2 linked regions of the Homo sapiens genome follow. The protein of the gene in region 1 purifies or fractionates together with the protein of each later gene. This does not show direct contact. Each region holds a gene or a part of one and is shown on either strand. Other genes may lie near its edges. The genes, in order: FYB2 and SKAP2.

Region 1 (3,829 bases):
GAAAAAGTAATGGGGAGGTATTGGTCAAAGGATACAAAATTTCAATTAGGAGAAGTACCTTCAGGAAGTTTATAGTACAACAGTGATTATAGTTAATAACAAAAGTATTATATACTTGAAAATTGCTGAGAGTAGATTTTAAAATTCTCACCACAAAAAATATGTGAGGTAATGAATACATTAACTGGCTTGACTTAGTCATTCCACTATGTATACAATTATCAAAACATGTTATATATCATAAGTATATATAATTATTATTTGTCAATTTTAAAATAAATTTTAGAAAAAGAAAAAGCAATGGAGTGGAGAGAATCAAATGTTACTCTGATTGATCTTAGAATCTCAGAAGTTTAGAGGGAAAAACAACCTTAAATATCATTAAACCCAGTACACTCATTTTAAAAAGAAAATTGAAACATAGAGAAGTGACTCCTCTAAGATCATTGTGTGTTAAAGTTGAGTTTTGAACCTAAAAATCCTGACCCTGATATTCAAAATTCTTTCCATTAGACTCTGTTTCAGGATTGAATTAAAGTATAACTGTGTATGTTAAGCTTATGTGTTGGGCTAGGCCAAAGCCATGCTGTGAAGGGAGAGATTATTCAAGATATATCTCATTTTCCATGGTTGCCCCAGCATTCAGCGCAATGCCTGATGCTTAGTAAATTCTGATTGTTATGTATTAAATACAGGAAGGAGGGAGGGTGGAAGGAAGGAATCTATTGAAGAACCAACTTTCTTTGACTAAATCAGTTCAAATTTGGAATCAGGTGGAAATGAGTCTTAATTTTCATTTATACATACTTTTATAGAGGTTTAAGTATTTTTACCATATGCTTTTAAAAACATGTGGGTGAGTTTCAGTAAAAACTATTTAACAAAAGAAAGATCAAAGTACCTAGCATCTAGTAAGTATCTAATACTTTTTGTTAAATATGAATCTGAACTATTGCTATTATAATGAATATAAGTAGGGTTTTCTTCTAATTTCAGAAGAAAATAGAGAACTGTATGAAGATGTCTACAAAACAAAGAACAACTACCCAAAGATAGAGTGAGTTTCTCTCTTTCTTGGCTTTGTAGGCTAATGACTTCCTGTTAGTCTAGTAAAGCCAGAGTTTCAGTGAGGACCCACCATCCGCCCCCCAGCCCCACTGCCACCCCCGACTCCCATCATCATCTTTTAGGAAAGATTCACACTGAGAGTTATGATAACCTATTGTAATATTACAATTGTGATCAATAGGATACTTGTAATTGTGTACAATCATATACTATCAATATTAAATCACATTGTTCTCGCTTTTGAGAAATACCCATTTCCCAGAGTAAATGATTTTGATATTGGGTTAGAAAATAAGTAATAAAAGAGATGTAAATATTAATAAAACTTGCTTCAATTTTATAGCTGTTTTTCCAGGAACAAATTAATGGTTATGACTTACCTGTGTCTCTGTAAGTTAGTAAGGCTATCTCCGGGATTTGGGCTTAATATAACATGTAGTGTGATTCAGTGTTATCAAGAATAAAATTTGTTCAGATGGGTATTATTCTACAAGTTTAGTTATTAAGGACATGTTGTGGAAAAGAAAACGGCAATGGTCAAAAGCAAGGAGTTTAAGGGTTCAAGGGGAAAAAGACCCTGAACTGGGCATGCTGGTTGGCACGATGTGGGTATATCATTCCCTCACTCTACCCCCTAAAGGCCCCAAAAGGATATTTGACAGAATTGTAATCATCAGCTGGGTAATCAATGTACCATCACTGCTATATTATTCAGTAAATTAAAAATCAATGATAAGAATTTCAAGAGTCAGGATTTTCTATAACGTATTTCTAGCACAGTTTGTAAAGTACATTTCCCTGAGTTATCTTTTCCTCTAAAGGGAAGACTGCTTCATAAAATCTGCAAAATAGAGATTACTTGCAGTAGTTTGTCTTGAAATATCATTACTCCCTTCATAGTTGACTGGTGTGTGCAACTTCATATCACATCTAAACAAAGAAAAGCATAGAACTCAATAAGGCATCTTCTTGCTCTTTCTTGAGTGAGATGTGTTTTGGACATGAAAACAAAGCCTCTGGTTCTTTATTTTTTTTATGGACTCAGAGGTACCTGTGCAGGTTTGATACATAAATATATTGCCTAATGATGAGGTATGGGCTTCTAGTCTACCCATTACCCAAACAGTGAACATTTACCCAATAGGGAACTTTCCAACCTTCATTCTTCCTCCCACCCTCCCGCTTTTTGGAGTCCCCAGTGTCGGTTATTTCCATCTTTATGACCATGTATACCTATTGTTTAGCTCCCACTTACAAGTGAGAACATGTGGCATTTGATTTTATAATACAACAGCCTTCTATCTCTAGTACTCTCTTAAATGCCATGTTACTTATATCCTGTGATTCCTCTCAGTTTAGATGGAAAAGAAGCACTCAAAAGACTGCAGCAATTCTTCAAGAAAGAAAAGGATAGATTTAAAATAAAGAAAACCAAGTCGAAAGAAAACTTAAGGTAAAAAGTCCCTTTAAATCCCTTTCCACGAGGGGATTAACCTGGTAGATACACAAGTTGATGTTCTCCATCCAATCTCAGAAACAGTGAAGGGGATATCAGAAACTAAAACCAAGGGTCTGGCCATCATCTGCCCCTTTCTTGTGAATTTTTGATTGAACTACATGCACAGAGACTAATTAATGAGAAAGTGGCATGCTCCTTTGAAAAAATGGCAGAGAAAGGGTTGAAAATAAGGGTAGAGGGAAAATCTTAAGCGAAGTCCAGAAAGGAAACTTTCCTCATCAGCCTTAACATCCTATTCCTGTTGTTACCACTAAGCATTACTTACCATGTCCTTTTATGCTTTTGGGGCCCTACAAGCCCCAGTAGTTTTTATTTGTCTACTGTTCCATATTTAATTTATCTCCCTTGAGAGCAGCAATATGTGGAAGGGGGAGATGAGCTGCTCAGCTGAACAGTTCGTGTATTGCAAGGTCTTAGACCTGGAAAAGATCCTCTGAGATAACCTAGGCTAACTGCCAGTTTTGAGAGAGGTTCCAAATTCACTAGCACTAGAAAGAGATGTGAGGGGACCTGGATTCTATATTCTAGTACCAGTTCTGCCATTTATTCCATGTACAACTGTGGGCATATCACTTCCTTTATACACCCACAGCATTCCACTTTTCTCCTGCATATAATGGAAGGGGGACCCTGGAGACGCTTTGCAGGCAATAGATAGATATAGATGTAGATATTCAGGTGCACCTCAATTTATGATGGGGTTGTGTCTCAATAAACTCATTGCAACTCTAAAATATGTTAAGTTAAAAGTCCATTTAATACATCTACCAAACATCATCGCTTAGCCTAGCTCATCTTAAACATGCTTGGAATATTTACATCAGCCTACAGTTGGGCAAAAGCATCTAACACAAAGCCTGTCTATAAAAAGTGTTGACTATCTCATGTAATTTATTGAATACTGTACTGAAAGTGGAAAAAGAATGGTCTTAAGGATACTTGAAGTAGGTTTCTACTGAATGCGTATTGCTTTCACACCACTGTAAAGCAGAAAAATTGGGAGTCAAACCATTGTAAGGCTGGGAACATCTGTGTAGATATACAGACATAGAGATGTATTTTGTGAGGGCAGAAGATGCTAAAATAATTTGCCCAAGGTAATTACCTATAGTGAGATGGAATTATGTTGTTCTACCCTGAAGTTCTTTTTGATTATAAAGCCTCAGAGTTTTGTGGCTTTAAGTTCAACTGTCAATTGGATCTAGATCTACCAAGAGACCCTACAAAACATGAGGTTTATAA
Region 2 (3,829 bases), on another chromosome or scaffold:
TGTTTTAAAGAATTCATATGGCTATTAAGCAAATCCTGGATATTGGACAAACAGCAATAAAGGTTTAGAAAAATGAAATTTCAGTTAAAAAAAATGTACTCCCCCACTCCCCAGGGAAGAAATCAAAGATTTTATATTAGAAACATGAATTTAGAATTCAGAACAAGTATTGCTTATGACATCAAATTTTATTGTGATGTATCAGGTGGAAATTTAGTCAACACTTTTCTTAAAGCAAAAGACTCAGGCTATGTGTATATTGAACGCTAGTAAATTCTAATTTCCCTTCTCCTTTTCCTTTTCCCCCACTTCCTCTCCCCTCTCCCTTCTTCCCATCTCTCTCTGTCTCCTTTTTGACCAGTAACATTTTAGAGTTGAAAGCTATGCTAAAGGTACCCATTTCTTTTCAGAATAATTTAACTTTTCTTAAGATTTTGTGAGCATCCATTCCTTATGTAAAGAGCATTTATTATGCCCAATGGAAGTGAGAGGGTTGTGGGACTACCCCTTAATGAGACCAGATCATTCCACAATTATCCACTTTAGATTAGTGGTTCACCAGGACTTGTTTACAGAGATAAGATTTCTGTTTGTAATTTTTGTTTTATGTACAAAATCCTATAATAAATAATTTATACCTTTATATGTACCAAGTTTATTTTGAAAAAAACTGGATACATTTATTGAACAGCTATTAAAATATGTACACTGACTTTCCCTAAAATTTCATATACATTTCAAAATCAGGGCTCTATTTTAAATATGTTTTAATGATACTGTGTGGTGTTTACTGGGTGAAGTTGATCCACCAAGGAGCTGAAATTAGTGCTCTAATTTTAAGCTTTATTTCTTAAGAAAAAATATCCATGACTTTATCACTACTGTGATCCCCATGGTATTAAAAAAAAAAACTGGTAAAATTAGGTGATGAGTTTGTAAATAATAAACTTCCTATCAAACCCATTCTTTTTTTTAATTTTTAATTTTTGTGGGTACACAATAGGCAAATTTATGGGCATATTGTATGTTTTGATACAGGCATACAATGCATGATAATCACATCAGGATAAATGAGGTATCCATCACCTCAACCATTTATTCTTTCTCTGTTACAAAGAATCCAATTATATTTGTTTAGTTATTTCATTTTATTAATTTATTTATTTATTTATTTATTTATTTATTTATTTATTTAGAGACAGGGTCTCACTCTATTACCCAGGCTGGAGCGCAGTGGCACAATCATGGCTCACTGCAGCCTTGACCTCTTGGGGGATCCTCCCACCTCAGACCCCCTTCCCCCCACCTCTACCCTCCTCCTCCACTGGCTGGGACTGCAGGCGCGTATACCACTACACCCAGTTATTTTTAAATTTTTCGTAGAGATGGGGGTCTCACTGTGTTACCCAAGCTGGTGTCAAACTCCTGGGCTCAAGCGACCCTCCTTCCTTAGCCTCCCAAAGTGCTGGGATTGTAGGCATGAGCCATTGCACCCGGCCACTTAGTTATTTTTAAATGTACAATAAATTATTGTTGACTATAGTCACTCTGTTGTGCTATCAAATACTAGATCTTATTCATTCTAATTACATGTTTGTACTCAAACACATTTTCTATCCTAAGTTGTACTGAAACTATTTCCACTGGATGTATTCCATACAAACTTTCTTTTGATTGGTTGTTTTCACTTGCTAGAGTTCTAGTAAAATGCTGAGGATAACTATTATATTTCTTTTCTTTTCTGTTTTCGTTTTTTTCTCTTTTTTTTCCCAGGCTGGATTGCAATGGCGTGATCTTGGCTCACTGCAACCTCTGCCTCCTGGGTTCGAGTGATTCTCCTGCGTCAGCTCCCAAGTAGCTGGGATTACAGGCACCCGCCACCATGCCTGGCTAATTTCTTTTGTAGTTTTAGTAGAGACCAGGTTTCACTGTGTTGGCCAGGCTGGTCTCGAACTCCTGTCCTCAAGTGATCCACCCGCCTCGGCCTCCAAAAGTGCTGGGATTACAAGCGTGAGCCACTGCGCCCGGCAGATAACTATTATATTTCTAATGAAGTTTATAAAAATATTGAACACTTGTAAAATTGAGTAACCTATAATCCATGACCGTGAATATACAATTTCTAATCAACTTAACTTTTGCTTGATTTAAAAACTTTTTTTAGGGATCCAGTATTTGTTTATAATAGTTTTATCAGATCTGTCTAGTTTTAGACTCTTAAATGCCCTATAAAAACCTAAAGCATACTCACTCAGTGGAATGTCCATAACATTTCTCTGAATACAAACACAGAGAATATTTGCTGTGGGCTCAGAGAAACAAGTTTCAGCATTTGATTCGGAAAAGCATTTTATGTTTTACTTGGTAGGAATAGGGATTATGCAGGAAAGAGTCAATATGTATTGAAATTTTTAAAGAGTTAATTCAATATAAATATAACGAAGCTATGATTTATTTGAAATTCTTAACCTCTCTTTCAGGGATTTATTGCATTTATTTATAATAGTTTCTCAGTCCTGTATTTTGGGAGGCTATAATAACATATAGGAGTACAGAACTTTTTTTTTTTTTTTTTTTTTTTTACTTTTGAGACTTTTAGGAGGAATAGAGGGGATTAATCTAGGGAATGGATCTGAAACAAAGCTAATAGACTTAGATTTAAACAATTTCAGTAATTAAAAGCACACTGAATCTAATGAGATCTGGCACTTGTTTATTCTGAAATGGATTACCCACTGCTTTTTTTTTTCTCTCCCCAACTTCTCATAGGAGCCCAGTTTCCTCCAATTGCAGCACAAGACCTTCCTTTTGTTCTAAAGGCTGGCTACCTTGAAAAACGCAGAAAAGGTAAACTGAAGGTTCTAATGAAAAATGTAAAAATAATTTCATCCTTAGATAGAACATGTTTGTAGTATACATGTGGAGGCAGTATTCGTTTTAGGTGATTAAAGAGTTTAAAGATTGTAAGAAAATCTGGATGACATTATCCAAACCACAAAATATAGCTCTTAGCTTTAAATAATTTTTAATAAGAAAACATTAGGTTAGGTTTTTAGTTGTCAACCTTGGTTATTTGTAAATGATTCAGGAGCTGTTTCCTGCCTCTCAAAGGAAAGCTGCAGGCCATGACTGTATTCTCAAAGGTGGGATTTCTCACCAGTATCTCAATGGGCTGAGCAGCAGGTTCTCCTATGCCCAAACTGGCATGCACCATGGTTCAGATCAAGCCTGGAGTTTTGTCTGCCATTGTCTATTATTCATTTCAGTGTTCCTCTCCATTGGCTATGATAATTGGGAGTTGACCATATGGTCTCACTCTTTCAACACCAATATTTAATGGAAATGAAATATGGAGGTGGTTTTATAATATGAGAAATGAAAAGCAGACAGTCTTTTCATTACCATTCTGCTTATCTCTCTTGTAGTCCCTTTAGGCCTTTCTATTTATATTTCATTTTGCTTTTCTTAGCTTTCTTAGCTGAATTTTAAAACTGAAAGAGATAACAGAAATAATCTAGGTTAGCTCCTCCCCTTCTTTTTATAACAGATGAGAAAATGAGACCCAGATGGATCAATTATCTCAAGACTGTATAGTCAGATACCTTTTTGACTGTCCCTGTCAGAAAACTTTGTTAGCCATGCTGTTGATCCCATAAGTATGGCAGCCCCATAGCTACTTTACTTTATTCCCTTTAGCTGTGTTGGTTTGTTGTTGTTTGGTTTTTTGTCTCTTGGAAAAGAAGATACAAATTAGTCACACAATGTTAGAGCTCAGAGGAATCTTAGAAATCATATTAATTAACTTTTTCTTTTACAGTAAGGAAATGGC

The links.
Region 2: the proteins of FYB2 (region 1) and SKAP2 purify together in Homo sapiens (affinity purification with mass spectrometry; one large-scale study listed by BioGRID and IntAct). This does not show direct contact.

The regions. Positions count from the first base shown.
Region 1 is NC_000001.11:56,739,389-56,743,217, reverse strand, and holds part of FYB2 (FYN-binding protein 2), read left to right. Parts: intron 1-996; coding exon 997-1,057; intron 1,058-2,422; coding exon 2,423-2,521; exon of another isoform or gene 2,522-3,829. UniProt on the Homo sapiens protein: Adapter protein that plays a role in T-cell receptor (TCR)-mediated activation of signaling pathways. Required for T-cell activation and integrin-mediated T-cell adhesion in response to TCR stimulation.
Region 2 is NC_000007.14:26,738,905-26,742,733, reverse strand, and holds part of SKAP2 (src kinase-associated phosphoprotein 2), read left to right. Parts: intron 1-362; exon of another isoform or gene 363-392; intron 393-2,769; coding exon 2,770-2,847; intron 2,848-3,829. UniProt on the Homo sapiens protein: May be involved in B-cell and macrophage adhesion processes. In B-cells, may act by coupling the B-cell receptor (BCR) to integrin activation. May play a role in src signaling pathway.